Linked DNA regions of Homo sapiens: region 1 is linked to region 2. A link means that fine-mapping ties the variant in region 2 to the expression of a gene that starts in the linked region. Tissue or cell type: whole blood. Region 2 holds a variant in brackets; the other region holds the start of a gene. All regions are shown on one strand. Distances are from middle to middle.

Evidence for each region. PIP is the estimated chance that this variant, and not a neighbour inherited with it, causes the effect.
Region 1: it holds the start of WAPL, and the variant in region 2 is fine-mapped to the expression of WAPL in whole blood (INTERVAL, PIP above 0.99).

The regions. Positions count from the first base shown.
Region 1 is chr10:86,517,968-86,526,058 of GRCh38, forward strand. It overlaps WAPL (WAPL cohesin release factor), which reads right to left and starts at 3,825. Exons shown (of 19, transcript NM_015045.5): 1 at 3,398-3,825; 2 at 1-124. The coding sequence starts at 102. It overlaps WAPL-DT (WAPL divergent transcript), which reads left to right and starts at 3,980. Exons shown (of 2, transcript NR_186498.1): 1 at 3,980-4,442; 2 at 4,542-7,134. RefSeq lists silencers at 3,319-3,738, 3,879-4,438.
Region 2 is chr10:86,452,466-86,460,569 of GRCh38, forward strand. WAPL (WAPL cohesin release factor) reads right to left here. Exons shown (of 19, transcript NM_015045.5): 11 at 7,934-8,031; 12 at 6,524-6,600; 13 at 1,191-1,366; 14 at 755-870. Among named protein-coding and RNA genes, the nearest start is that of WAPL, 65 kb to the right of the region's middle. The variant G/A (reference allele first, on the strand shown) is at 4,180.

The sequences.
Region 1 (8,091 bases), 65 kb after region 2:
TTTTGTGCTAAGGGTAGTCCGTTTGTTGGAAAAGACTTCATCGAATTTTGAACTGCCATTTCCACCTTTCCTACTGTATGTTTTCCCAAATCTGGATGTCATTTTGACACCAGTTTCATATTCTCTGTGAAAAAAAATTTAAGAAAACATATAATCATCAAATACAAGTGTTAAACAGTGCATATAAAAATAAAAACCTAGGGATTCTTCCCTCATGACTTTTGACACTCACCACACAGACTTTTAAATAAACAAATATGAGGAAGGGGTATAAAGAAAGGCTGATTTATTACCCTACATGCTTCCATGTCAATTTTCCTCCACAATGAGTACATATTCCTACGCTACTTACAAAGTAAAAAAACTTAATGATTAACCAACTTATAATACGATATCCATAAAGCTAACTTAAAATGAAGCATATTAAGTTCCAAATGAATTAATTTACTATTCTTATAAACATCATTTTTACCTTAAAAAATTATCTGTATAGAGGCTGGGAGGCCGAGGCAGGCAGCTCACTTGAGGCCAGGAGTTTGAGACCAGCCTGCCCAACACGGTGAAACCCCATCTCTACTAAAAATACAAAAATTAGCTGGGAGTGGTGGCACGCACCTGTAATCCCAGCTACTTGAGAAGCTGGAGCAGAAGAACCGCTTGAACTCAGGAGATGGAGGTTGCAGTGATATAATGATAACCTGTATAGGGTAATTACTTATATAAAATCTTAAGCACAGAATGTTAGTTTTTTTCAGGGCCTCAGAAATATCCAATACTTGATTAAATTTAGTTCTTTGAAATTTCATGGCACTAATTCACATGAGAAAAAAGGTCCCCAAAATGGTGCTTTTTCTCATGTTTTACAACCTGCAGCTTTTAACCCAATCTTGAAGATTCTGCTTCTTGGTGTAATGTAATTTGCGCTGTGACTTTAAAAATGTTCCTTAGATGGTCATCTCCCTAGGGAAAGAAACTATCCTTATCCTATCTGCCTTGTCCCGATAGTGCTGTGCTCATTTGCTGAGTTATATTTTCTGGGGCTAGTGAGCTCCAGCATATTACACTGTTTCATGGATTAATACAGACATAGAAACATACAACTTTTATTTTCCTTTTCAATTTATAAATGGCAAATCGATTCACCTGATTTATCTACTTCACAGGACAAAAAAAAAAATCTTTAGGGCAGTAAATCAAGAGTCAAACATTTTTTAAAACAAGTTACTTGCATTAGTTCTGTGCCTATTAAAAAGTTATAGTACTTTTTAAACATGATCAATCAGTAACCGTTTGTCTAACACTTTGACCTTTCTACAGTTCAAACATGAATACATCGAATATAACTTTAAAAAGTGAACAAGGGCCTAAGGAATGAAAAATCATTACTTTGAAAGCTACAAGAATTGAAATTATATTTGACCTATACTTTTGAATATGTTTTGATCTACACTTGTTTTCCCTTGATTAACTTAAATTCTTACCATTTATAATGAGTCACTGTCTGAGTTTTATATAAATTCAGTAGTAGACCCCCCCCCATGTTTGGTGAGAACCCAATTTTAATTTGACAAGGTAATAATTTAGTCATCATACATATCTGCGTTAAGAGAAAACAGTGTTCCTGAAGGAGATGTATTTCATCTTCCACTGCAGCTCTAACACTAACAAGTCTTACTGTCTTTCTTGTTAAGTACAGCCTAAACAAAACAGGATACTGGGCAACTACCACGGACAACAAAATAAAAATCGATTCTCTGTTCCTTCAAGAATGTAAAGCTGAGATCCTGCAGGTCTGTAAGTGTACGTACACATACACACCAACAAAGATGGAATGTTTTGGATTCACTTATGTGCTAATCATCTAAAAATACTAACCAAAGGCCAAACCAAAAATCTAGACTTGAGTTCCTTTATGCCAACATCAGAAAAACTGTTAAAATGGTTCTATAACCACAAAGCATTCACTGTTGAAAGTTTGAAGTCTTCAGATGAATACCTGACACTAAGGACTTAATTATTTTATGTGATAAAAAATAATTTTGTGCTGGCTGGGGGCGGCAGGTCACGCCTGTAATTCCAGCACTCTGGGAAGCCAAGACGGGCAGATCACCTGAGGCCAGGAGTTCGAGACCAGCCTGACCAACATGGAGAAACCACGTTTCTACTAAAAATAGAAAATTAGCCGGGCGTGGTGGCGCATGCCTGTAATCCCAGCTACTCCGGAGGCTGGGGCAGGAGAATCAATTGAACCTGGGAGGCGGAGGTTGCGGTGAGCTGAGATCGCGCCACTGCACTCCAGCCTGGGCAACAAGGGCGAAACTCCGTCTCAAAATAATAATAATAATGATAATAATAATTTTGTGCCAAAAGACCACGTCTTTTACAAATACATAGTGAAATACTGATGAAATAACGTCAGCGATTTTCCAACATTAAGGAATGAGAAGTGTATAGATGAAATAAATTTGTTTAATAGTCACTGCTAAATCCAAGCGATGGGTACAGAGAAGTTCATTATATAATATCTCCTCCTGATTGCCTTTATCGTTTCCCACAATAAAATGTCTTTGCAATGGCATTATCTAAGCGTAAAGCACTACAGATTCCAAAATAAGTGTGCAGACGTCCTTGAAGTTAAATTTTAAGTGTTTCAAGTACACAATCTTGCTCAACCTTTAAACTCCAAAGACTGTCCTAACTAAAAAGGAAAGAATGATTGACGACTAAGTCTTTTCGGTCGTTCGGCTTTTGCCCTAGCCCAAAATCAGGTCGAATTTTGAGAGAAGTGCGCTGTGATTTAAAAAAAAAAAAAAAAAAAAAAAAGCAAAAAGCCTTTATACTTCACTCCCACCCTAATCTAGCGTCTTCCCGATCCCCAAAGGCTTTAAGGGCTTCCATTAAAGATGGAAAGCGGACGGGACGAACCTGACTAACCAGAAATCCTCACCTGGGGACAGCCGGGGCGCCACGGGCAGTGGGCGCGATGGACCCCTCGGACTAGACACTCAATGCAACTTTTCTCCTCCCAACCCGCGCCGCCCAGGAAAGGGAGGTCACTTTCGACGCCCCGGAAGCCTCTGCCACCGAATCCTTAAGGCAGTGCAAGGCCCCAGTGGCGGCCAGAGGCGGATGAAACCACGGGAAAGGACTCGGGGCTGAAATCAACACACTTGACTGGGTTTGGGGAGCTAAGTCAATCAGCAGTCGCCCGAAAAAGAACTCCGAAAAAGGAAAATAAAAGGGGAAAAAAAGAGTTCCTCAGGTCATTCCCCTGCCCAACTTCCTCAGCGGCCCGGTGGGCGAGGCAGTGAGACTTCCACCGCCCGCTCCCAGCCTCTGCCTCCCCCACCCTCCCGGCTCCCTCCCGGCCTAGGCGGCCGCCCGACACCTCACTTACCCTCGGAGCCTGGCGGGTGCTTTGGCCACGGGCCGCCTCCGCCTCTCCCGCTCCCTACGGCCCGCGGGCGGGCGCGGAACCCTCGCGCGGGAGAGCAGGGCCGGCAGGTGAGAGCCGAGAGAGGCGAGGGACTCTGCTTTCGGTAAATAGGAAGCCCGGTTGGGGGGGCAGGAGCGGCGGCCCCGCAACTTCCCTCCCCGCCTCGAGCGCCGCCGGCCGGGCCCAGGCCTAGCTCTCGCTGGCCGCCACTGCTGGAGCTGGTAACAGAGCCTGCTGTGTGCCCCCGCTGGGCCGCCGCCGCCTCCTGCGCCGCCGCTTCCGCCGGTGAATGGTCAGTGCTGGAGTTTGAACAGGGCCCTGAACCATCTCAACGCCATTTGCGCTCCCGGCCCCCACCTCCTTCCTCCAACAGCCGCTCGCTCCGTCACTCCGCTTCCCACAGTCCCCGCGCGGCCGCCCGACCCCGCAGCCAATCGCGCAGCCGCTTACTCAAACCGCCGCGCAGGCGCTGCGCCCCGCATGCTCCGGCGCCCGCCATTGGCCCGGCCGCGGAGCCCGACGGGAGTTGTAGTCCAGGTCCGCGAGGTCGCGGGCCGAGGACCAGGCGCGGGAGCGGGAGCGGGCGACTGGCCGGGCCCTCCCGGTCTCGGCAGCCACTTCTAGCTCCCGGCCCAGCCGGGAGACGCAGGTGCCACGGAGATGGGCAGCCGGGCGGGTGGCGCAGTGCAGGCAGCTGTATCAATCGCTTCCCCTCCAGGGACCCGCCGGTGCCTGGGGACCGCGGGCTGTGCAGCTGTGCCGGGCCTGCGGAGGCCGCCGCCCGGGAGCTGGGAGGCAGGGGGCGCGTGGTCAAGAGCCGCCCTCGACCTGGCCTGGTCGGTCCTGGCCCGGCGTAGGTGACGATGGCGGGGACCGCGAGGCGCCGGACACCCGAGGCCACGAGCAGCGTCGCCCCTCGCTTTTTCGCGCCCCTCCAGCCCTGCAGTCCTTCCTCTAAGTCCGTCTGCCCCTCACCGATTGAAAGTGGCCCCGAGAATATTGGATGGTATTGAGCAATTATCATTAACTTTGTTGGGTGTGGTAACGGTAATGTGGTTATGGTTTTTTGTTTTTTTTTTTTTAAGACCTACTGATGTGTTGACAGAGTGATCTGGTGTCAGGACTGTAAAATACGCCTATGAAAACTGGGGGAGAGGAATAAAACAAGCTGGCAGAACGTTTTTCATCGTTGAAGCTGCGTGATGCGAGCATATGTGCTCATCATACAGTCTCTTTACTTGTGTATCTGAAATTTTCCATAATAAAAAGTTTAAAGAAGTGAACCAGCGATTGCCTCTAGGGAGGACAGTGAGGTGGCGGATGACGGGAGGAAGGAGTCTTAATTTTTCGCTGTACGCCTTTTTGTGCTATCTTAGGTTTTTCCCATTCAATGTGTTACCTAATTCAGAAAATTGGTAAGTTTTTTTTAAGGCTACCATGGGAAAACAGCGTTCTAAAGAGTAGCGCAACCAGTTCCCCCTAAGAGAGGTGCATGATTCGTCGGACTCCGACAGCCTTGGTGTTTGTTAGGCGGTTAATGGAGACCCACCTGGGAAATTAGAAAACTACTAATTGCTTTCAGTGAGAAGCCCGCCCTTCTCCCACAAATGGATAATTTGCTTTTAATGCACCCAGAAGTTATCCAGCTCCCTCCGGTATAATCGGGGAAACTCCAAATAAAGGAAAAATAGTTCAGAGACCCTGCAGCTCTTCCCAAGAGGAATTTAAGGTGGATTTTAGTGTGGTTGGATTGTTTTGCCTACCTGACTGCAGAATTTATATTCTGACATTTACAATTTCCTAAATACTGAATCAGTACTTTTTCTTGTTTCAAAATAAATCAACTTCTTCTGTAGTTTATATGAAAAACAAGTCCATGTCTTCCACTGTGGGTGGGATGCACATGACTGTTTTATTTGGGTCAGTTTTGTCTCTTTTTTTAATTGGCAGTTTAGGAACTTGTTTTTATCATTTTGTTTAAAGATCTTCTGGCAGAGGTGCAGGCTGCACTTACTATAATTATTTAGATGACAAGGTGGTGGGTGGTAATTAAAGGGTAATTATCATCAGAGGCAAAAGGTAAGATCAAAAAACCAGAAGAGGTGAGGAAACAATTGCAAGATCTTCCTGTAGGAGGGTGTCGTGATCCTCCCAAGACCAAAGGATATGTCTATTATGCCTGGCCTCTCTAGTGCTGGACACTTGGCAGGGTCAGTGCCTGCATGAGGCTGAAGTGGAAGGGCTTATTGTTTAGACTGGTGCCTTTTGAGGGCTTTTATGTGATGGTTGTGTTAAGTAATGAAACTTAGTAGTGTCAAATTCTTGCCACTCAAAGAATGATCCCCAATCAGCAGTGTAGCATCACCTGGAAGCCTGTAAGGAACGCATAATTCCTATCCCTCACCCCAGCTCCACTGAATCAGAACCTGCATTTTAACAGGATTCCCCCAGCTGATTGGGCTGCACATTAAAGTTTGACAAGCACTGATTTAAAGTATACCCATAGCATTTGACAGCAATCTAGTATTTTTCGTTAGGATGAGGGAGAGGAAGGGAGATGATTAAGAACCTCCTATGCATCAGGTAAGATGCTAGGCTGTTCAGGGGCCTTGTCTGCTTCCCAGTCCATTACTCTATCTTACAAGTAAGGAAATGGGAAGACTTGTATGTTACAACTAATGAGGGAGTCAAACTTTTTCTTGACGGTTGGATACCCTTTAGTACTTCTTGGTGTTCTTGAATCTGGTAGAAAGTGGTACATGATTTGAGAAGTAAAGTGTGTGTGAGTGTGTGTGTGTGTGTGTGTGTGTGTGTGTATTTAGTCTGTGGAAGCTTAGTATATGAATATTAAGCAGAGCTCTTCTGGGCTCTGTACCCTTGTGTGGCTCACACTAAAGACACCCCTCGGGCCCCTCCTGGAGGGAGTTCAGACTCCTGGCCCTGCAGGCTGTACCACCACCTTAACCCCTTACCTCCCTGCTTCCACTGAGGCAAGCAAATGCCCTGAAGTCCCCTCATTCCCTTACCAGGGCCCTGGGTTCCACACCAGAATGAGCAAACAGAACTCCAGTGTGGGTAACACATGGCTGAACAGCTTTTTGTTGTATTGTTTTTGTTTTCTTAGTTCTCTCAGCTCAGGCTCCATCCCCCTGGCCACCTCAACCCCTAGAATGGTTGTCTCCATTTCATGAGAATCTTCACACTAACATCAAGTAGCCAGTAGGTGCTTTTGGTTTTGCTAGAATGCCTGTGTGCAAGCTCTCAGATACCTGATTTTCTTTCCCCCACTGAATGTTGTGTTTGTCAGAAACTGAAATCATGGATCAGAGCCAAGTTTGTAGTACCCTTAGGAGGGGCCTCTGCCCTCCTGTGTGCTGCCTGGGTGAGGACAGAACCCCCTAACCTGGAGCTCCACTTGAGTGGGCCCATACCTGTACTTTCCTCTGAAAAAAGAAAATCCTGCAAAGAAAATAGAAGACATCTGTTCTGCCATTGCCATGCCCTTGTTCTAGCCCAGACATGAGAACTGTCAGAATTGGAGTTACTAAATAGAACTTTTAGTCTTTTTCTGATAATGTGTAGTAAAGTGTATTACAACTTATAGAATTCTATTTAGGGAACTACAGGTCAGAAACTACCATATTGGTAGCAGTCAATTTTTCTTTGCCATCGGATGTGGAATAAAATGTTAAATTGTACACTTGCATGTTGTGGTTATATTACAAAGCTCTACGAGATGTGGGCCAGGCCCTGCCCTTTGCTCATGCAGCCCCAACTTTCTGCTCTGCCCACACCTGACTCCTTGCTGTTTCCCCACCTTAGGGCCTTTGTATTTCCTATTCCCTCTGCCTACAACTCCCCCAGATACCAGCCTGCTTCAATTCTCTCCTCTAGGTTTTCACTCAGATGGGACTTTTCAATGAATCTCCCCTGACCAACCTATCTTAAATTGTTGCAACATCCTCACTCCTAAATGTCACTGTCCCTGCTTTACTTTCTTTAAGGGCATTTATCTTCCCATCTAACATATCAGGCATTTTGCATGTTTATCTTAAATGTTGTGCTCCCTCTGAAGGCAGGGATCTCTGCCTGTCTTGTTTTCTGCTGCAACCCTAGCACCTAGAAGACTGCCTGGCACAAGAGTAGGTGCTCAATAAATATTTGTTGAATAAAAGCACCCATTTATTTCCTTCTTTCATGTAAAATTATATACATATATTATATATATATATATATATATTTTTTTTTTTTTTTTTTTAGACGGAGTCTCGCTCTGTCACCAGGCTGGAGTGCAGTGGCGCGATCTCGGCTCACTGCAATCTCTGCCTCCCTGGTTCAAGCGATTCCCCTGCCTCAGCCTCCCCAGTAGCTGGGACTACAGGCGCACACCACCACACCCAGCTCATTTTTTGTATTTTAGTAGAGATGGTGTTTTGCATGTTGGCCAGGATGGTTTCGATCTCTTGACCTTGTGATCCGCCTGGCTCAGCCTCCCAAAGTGCTGGGATTACAGGTGTGAGCTACCATGCCTGGCCACATTTTTTTTTTTTTTTTTTTTTTTTTTTTTTGGTGACAGAGTCTTGCTCTGTCGCCCAGGCTGGAATGTAGTGGCACGATCTCCAATCACTGCAACCTCCACCTCCAGGGTTCAAGCC
Region 2 (8,104 bases):
CCTGTAATCCCACCTAATTGGGAGGCTGAGGCAGGAGAATAGCTTGAACCCAGGAGATGGAGGTTGCAGTGAGCCGAGACTGTGCCACTGCACTCCAGCCTGGGCAAGAGAGTGAGTGAGACTCCATCTCAAAAACAAACAAAAAAAGAACAAAAAAAACAAAACAAAAAAACCACCGATTTTCCCAAAGAATCATTCCTTTTATTTTTAATTGCCAATTTTAGCTTTCGTACTTTTTATTTTTACATAGGGTCTTTTCATGGCTTTCTTTTGCACAATAAGAAGTACGTTCAGCCAGACGCAATAGCTCATACCTGTAATCCCACCACTTTGGGAGGCTGAGGCGGGCAGATCACTTGAGGCCAGGAGTTTGAAACCAGCCTTGGCAACATGGCAAAACCCCGTCTCTACTAAAAATACAAAAATTAGCCAGGCGTGGTGGCACATGCCTACAGTCCCAGCACCTGGAAGGCTGAGGCAGGAGAACTGCTTGAACCAGGGAGGCGGAGGTTGCAGTGAGCCAAGATGTTGCCACTGTAGACTCCATCTCCCAAAAAAAAAAAAAAAAAAAAAAAAAAAAAAAAAAAAAAAAAAAAAAAAAAAAAAGAAACACACACAGTAAGTTCATAAGGAAATTCATGAAAAAAAACCCACAATATATTAAAGGGTTGGTTCTTAAACCCAAACTAAGGTTAACATTTTGCACACCTTATTAGATATGATACTCATTTCTGAAAAAGTCATTTCAACTTACCAGCACTCGAATATCAAATCTCTGCTCCTGAGGTAGGTACTTTGGAACCTGAAGCACACAGTTCAGCGCTGTGCCTATGAGACCGTCCTGCTCTCCTGTTTTGGTGCTGCCCCACTCTGAAATAAGAAATGGATACAGGAAAATGGTTACTGATTCTTCCTTAGAACACTAATAATGGAGATTTATTAACATGGATATTAACTTAGAATTGTATAGTCATTCCTCTATTGAAACATACTATTGATACTTCTGGGTCAAGCTACTAGGCTTCTAAAAATATCAACTCTTAAAAGCAATTTAAACCTACACATGAGTAAGTCAAGTACATTATGACAAATAAAAAAATCACTACCCCAGGAAAAGGAGAAACAAAAATAACTTGTTTTCACATGCAATATACATCTTTCAATGAGAAAAAAATGGAAAAAAATCTTACCATTATCATTAGTTAAATTAAGCAACACCCCGATGATGGCCCTCATGCAGTCCTCCACTGCTTTGCCTACATGGTTAGTTACATTCTGGTGAGGCAGAGGCTTACTGTCAGCTAAGCATATGCTGTCCTCAGCACGGTTGTACTGCTGAATCAGTTCTTCACAATGCTGTAATGCTCTTAAAAGGAAATAAAATATAGACTATTATAGTAAATAATAATAGGTACACAGCAAATTTCTATTTACTTGAACCTAAAGGCTATCGGATGAAATTTCACTTTATTTTGGAAAAATCTGATACCTTAAAAAACTTATTCAAGGAATGTTAAAATTAAAAACTTATGGCAGAAGTTTATATCTGTACTATCTACATTTACCACTAGTAATCTCTTTATTTCCAAATTGTCTCGCATGTTATTGATCTCTCCAATATAAGAGACAGACCACAACCCTTTCTCAAACAGGGCAAATGGTTAACAGCTAATGTTGGACACTTCTGAGGTAGTAAATGTTATTACTACATAACAAATGTTAATGTAAAGACAAGTATTAAATATTTCATACGCATTAGAGCAAATCATTATTTTTATTACCTTCACTACCAACGTTGACAGTATAAATCATTATTTTTTAATTTAAGTTCATTCAAATTGACATGTCTCCTCGACAATTTTCCAAGGGGATGAGCTACATCTAAGGATTCTCGCTCTCCCTCTCCCTCTCCCTCCACAATCTCCCTCTCCCTCTCTCTCCACGGTCTCCCTCTGATGCCAAGCCGAGGCTGGACTGTACTGCCGCCATCTCGGCTCACTGCAACCTCCCTGCCTGATTCTCCTGCCTCAGCCTGCCTAGTGCCTGGGACTGCAGGCGGGCGCCGCCACACCTGACTGGTTTTTGCTGGAGTGCAGTGGCGTGATCTTGGCTCGCTACAACCTCCACCTCCCAGCCGCCTGCCTTGGCCTCCCAAAGTGCGGAGACTGCAGCCTCTGCCCAGCCGCCACCCTGTCTGGGAAGTGAGGAGCGTCTCTGCCTGGCCGCCCATCGTCTGGGATGTGAGGAGGCCCTCTGCCCGGCCGCCCAGCCTGGGAAGTGAGGAGTGCCTCTTCCCAGCCGCCATCCCGTCTGGGAAGTGACGAGCGTCTCTGCCCGGCCGCCCATCGTCTGAGATGTGGGGAGCACCTCTGCCCGGCCGCGACCCCGTCTGGGAACTGAGGAGTGTCTCTGCCCGACCGCCACCCCGTCTGGGAGGTGAGGAGCGTCTCTGCCCGGCCACCCCGTCTGAGAAGTGAGGAGCCCCTCCGCCCGGCAGCCGCCCGGTCTGGGAAGTGAGGAGCGTCTCCGCCCGGCAGCCACCCCGTCCGGGAGGTGGGGGGCAGCCCCCGCCCGGCCAGCCGCCCCGTCCGGGAGGGAGGTGGGGGGCAGCCCCCGCCCGGCAGCCGCCCCGTCCAGGAGGTGGGGGGGTGCCTCTGCCCGGCCACCCCGTCTGGGAAGTGAGGAGCCCCTCTGCCCGGCCGCCACCCCGTCTGGGAGGTGTACCCAACAGCTCACTGAGAACGGGCCATGATGACGATGGCAGTTTTGTCGAACAGAAAAGGGGGAAATGTGGGGAAAAGAAAATCAGATTGTTATTGTGTCTGTGTAGAAAGAAGTAGACATAGGAGACTCCATTTTGTTCTGTACTAAGAAAAATTCTTCTGCCTTGGGATGCTGTTAATCTGCAAACTTACCCCCAACCCCGTGCTCTCTGAAACATGTGCTGTGTCCACTCAGGGTTAAATGGATTAAGGGCAGTGCAAGATGTGCTTTGTTAAACAGATGCTTGAAGGCAGCATGCTCGTTAAGAGTCATCACCACTCCTTAATCTCAAGTACCCAGGGACACAAACACAAGGAAGGCCGCAGGGTCCTCTGCCTAGGAAAACCAGAGACCCTTGTTCACATGTTTATCTGCTGACCTTCCCTCCACTATCGTCCTATGACCCTGCCAAATCCCCCTCTCCGAGAAACACCCAAGAATGATCAATAAATACTAAAAAAAAAAAAAGAAAGAAAGAAAAAAAAAGAAAAAAAGAAAACAAATAAAAATTTGCTAGCAGGGTGAGATGGGACAGAATAAAAGATAGAGCGTAAATCTATAATTGTAAAATACTTAACAGCAGGTGGGTTGCATAAAAAATATAGCATCTAGATCAGGGACAAATGGAAAAGAAGGCGATATTACTGCATTAGGTTCCCAGAGGTGCTATACAAACAGAAACATGTTTTCTAAATGGTGAAACAGGTATTGAAATGACTCTTTATCAGAACTATGAGTCTTTTTCGCAAGAGAAATTGGATTTACTAGTTGAATGTTTTTCTCTTCCTCTGGCCACAAAGGATATTGGGGCAACTTGAGAGAGGAATCAATAATGTAGAGTCTGATGGACACTCAATGATCAGCCTCATAATCTGACTACATAAGCACAATAAAACAAAGTCAGAGTGTCTTGCAAGCTGTCACAGGGGTACTAAGCTGAGAGAAGGACCTTAGTTAAGGCAGCTAGCACTGAGAGGTTTTGTTCAAGCATTCTATCTTTCTATATTCCATTTCACGTCTACTAAATGGTGTCCAAAGTTGCAAAGGTGGTTCTACCCTAATAAGGTAATGGCAAGAAACTATTCTGTATATTGCATGATGATCAGAATAAAACCCAAAGAAATATTTGTAAGGTAAAGGACAAAATGTGTGTGTCATTAAAAACTTTATGATACCAAAAAAAAAAAAAAAGGATTCTCAAGATACTACCCAAAATAACAAGGAAATATAATCCCTAATGGGTCTAGTATTTCTAAAGACACTATTTAAATCACCAAGTCCACGATTTTTAAGTTTAATACAAATCAAGTAAGCTCACTCTGTCAGTTGATTCTTCATGCATTATATATCACACAAAATTCTTAAAGAAACCGTATCTAATCTACGCCTAGTTGCCCTTTAAAACATACTGAGGAA[G/A]TTCTGTAAAAGTTCTTAATATTTTACAACCCTTTGGTCAGGAAGGTGTTCCTCATGTCTAACCTAAAATAATTTGTTCTTCTGGTATTGAATGCTGGTCAGGATTACCATACTGTCACTGGTAACTCAACTGTTTTCAGGCTGGGCTAAACTGGGGCTTTGAAGACAAAAGGAGGTTCAGCATATGTTATTTAATCTTTCTGTATGCTATCTCCGAATTGATCATGGTTTCTGCTGAAAAGCTTAAAAACCTAGAGATAAGTGCTCTTTTACAAACACTCAATTCTGACCTCTACTGCCACTTCCAAGACATTTGGCCTGAATTTCCTAATCACAACAAAAGAGCACCTGTCATATCAAATACTTCCTCTTACAAGGTAGTTGTCAGAGGTTATGAAGTATACAAAAGAGATATTTTTAAATCAGAAACAACATACACAATTTTTCTTAATTTAAAAAAGAAAATGAAATCAGAAACATTTAACTTCAATAATCTTTGGTAAGGAAGGGTAAAAACATGGTAGCAAACAACCAGAATGCATGCGGTAAGAGCACTAAATACAGGCAATGCACAGTGGCTAATGCCTGTAATCCCAACATTTTGGGAGGTCAAGGCAGGAGAATCACTTAAGCCCACGAGTTTGAGACCAGCTGGGACAACATAGCAAGACCCTGTATCTATTAAAAAAAAAAAAAAAAAAGAGAGTGCTAAATATATATAAAATAGGCCAGGCACGGTGGCTCACATCTGTAATCCCAACACTTTGGGAGGCCAAGGCGGGTGGATCACCTGAGGTCAGGAGTTCGAGACCAGCCTGGTCAACATGGTGAAACCCCGTCTCTGCTAAAAATACAAAAATTAGCCAAGTGTGGTGGCGCACACCTGTTGTCCCAGCTATTCGGAAGGCTGAGGCAGGAGAATCATGTGAATCCAGAAGGCAGAGGTTGCAGTGAGCCGAGATCATGCCACTGTACTCCAGCCTGGGCTCAGAAAAAAAAATAAAATAAAATAAAGAAAAATAAAATATACAAATGCAAGATACAAAACGTACAAATCCAAGACAAAAAAAGGAGATTTTAAAAACCTACAGATTAAGAAAATCTACTGAGACTAGAAATTTGAGACTACTGAAAATTAGAATATTGACTAAACATAAAATATTAAGCAACTAATAATGTGTGGCATGAAAATGGCACTGGGGTTATATTTTTTAAAAGAGTCCTTTTCTTCTAGGCATTATGTACTTAAGTATTTATGGACGAAATAATATCTGGATCTGTTTCAAATAATACAGGAGAGGGAATGGATGAGGTTACAGATGGAAACCAGACTGGCCATGATTGATAATGTGTACATTACAGTTTATTACACTATTTATATTTGAATTCCTCCAAAATAAGAGGTTAAAAAACAGATAAACTAGAGTAAGACTGCAATGGGCCTTTGATAAGGCTGACTTCAATAAGAAAGTTGTACATATATCCAAAGACAATAAGGAATCAGAGATTTGAGAAATTAAAATTATTTTTTCAAAGCAGCGATTTGGAGAAAGTTAACTCCATGTGGTATTGTTCTGGATAGGCTAAAGGCCAGAGAACTAGGGCAGATATCAAGAACTAGGACAGAGATATCAGGAAGAGGTTGCTGTAATAAGACAGAACCAGGACTGGAGACATACTTGGGAATTTTACCTGCAAGGAGGTGACAGCATTAGCCTAATTGTGATGAAATGTGGGAAGAAATAAATGTGGAATGGAAGAAGCTACATACAGATATAGAAAAACAGGTCTAAATAAAGTGCAGAAGAACAGAGAAAAGTCCATTTAAAACAAGAATGAGGAAAAATGCTTAGTATTTACTATACGCCAAGTACTGTTCTAGGCTTTGCACATTAACTAATTTAACTCATTAATATGTATCACAAATGATACAAAAGATACTTTAAAAATCATTTAAATTTAAATTTTTTATATGTATTTTTAATATACACATATTTTTAAATATCTACTATGTATATATTTCTTACAAACATACAAATTAACTCATTTTACTGTAATAAAAATCCTAGGTGGGTTAGCCACTATTATTATCCCCCTTGTAAAGAGCTTGATTTGTACATTACAAAAGTTATACAGCTGAAATTATCAAGCTGGAATCCACACTGTCATTTTGTGTCCAAAATCTGTACTCTTAAAACTTTTGTTACACAATGTGAACCAATTCACAGAACTCAACAGAGCATTTCATGGAGGAAGCTAATCCAAATTTCTTTCATTTATGGTCAATCCAAATGTTTAAAATAAGTAACAATGTTAGTTGTTAACTAATAAACAAAAAACTTACTTAGCTGATGAAACAATAAGTTGGGAATCTTTATATGCTATCAAGTAGCTTTGATTTTCGGGATTATGCACAGTTACCTAAAAAGGAAGAATATGAAATAATTGTGGCAATCCAAAACTTTCATTCATTCATGTAACACCACATTCTGCCTGGTGCGTAAAAGATACAAAGATGAGGAAGAAACAGCCCTTGTTACCAAAGGGAATAATTTCACAACCTACAGGTTCCAGGTGTAAAATAAGAAAGCTAATGCTTTATGAAAAAATTAAGACATCACTGTTATATTCATTCATAATTAACATATTCTACACTACATATTCACTGTAACGAATTGCCAAACACACTGAATGTCAGAATAGAGCAGTCCTCAACTTACAAATAACGTAAAGTTCATAAGTAGATTCATTTAGAACACATTTTTACAAAGAAGTATCTGTTATCTACTGTGCCCAAAGCACTCTAGAAGACACATGGAACGCTACAATTTAATCTATGCCAGGAGCTTTTAATTTATACTATACTACTTTTAAAATAACCTGGTGAACAAACCTATGCATCCTGAAATTAGCTGGCAGTATAAATTCTAATCTATACGGAACTGGGTTAAGTCTTTCGTAAGAGTCAAAGAACAAAATATACTCGCTGCAGTTCAACAGTATCATTCTCCAAAGCCAAATATTATGACAGGCCATGCCTATAAACAATCTGACTCAAATAAAAGTCAAATAAACAAAATGCTAATAACAATTTAAAAATAAAACCTGATTGCATTTCACTATTGTTATCTACAAACAATGTAGTCAAGTAGAAATTCACATTAAGGAAAAAACAATAAAGATTGGAGGGGCCCAGCAAAGTGTAACGCCTGTAATCCCAATACTTTGGGAGGCTGAAGCCGGCAGGCCACTTGAAACTAGGAGTTTGAGACCAGCCTGGCCAACATGGCAAAACCCCGACTCTACTAAAAATACAAAAATCAGAAGGGCATGATGGCACATGCCTATAATCCCAGCTACTCAAGAGGCTGAGGCATGAAATTGCTTGAACCCGGGAAGCAGAGGTTGCAGTGAGCTAAGATCATGTCACTGCACTGTAGCCTGGGTGACAGAGTGAGACTCTGGCTCAAAAAATAATAATAAAAATAATAAAATCTTTAAAAAAGATTGGCATATGTAAACAAACAAGCCTAACATTTCATTTGCAGCAATAATACATGTACTCTTAAAATATAAAACTACTCATTTAGCTTGTTTATTAACAACTGGTTGCTCAAAAAATGTACTGCTATTTCTATCTGGATTAACAGAAGTGAACCTCCAGGGGTATATAAAATATTTGGCAGTCTCTCTCTTACACACACAATCACAATTAAGACTGAATAATTTTTGCCAAATAGTCATCCATACTTACACTTTCTAAAACTCGTAAACATCTCTCTGCTCCCCATAGTGAGGCTACCAGTTTCTCTTCATCCTCATCTCTACTTAAATGATCCACACATTCTTTTACTAGGTGAAAAGAAACAAACGTAAGTTAGTATTTATCATCGATACTTACCAATAGAATACTTTTAGCTAACAT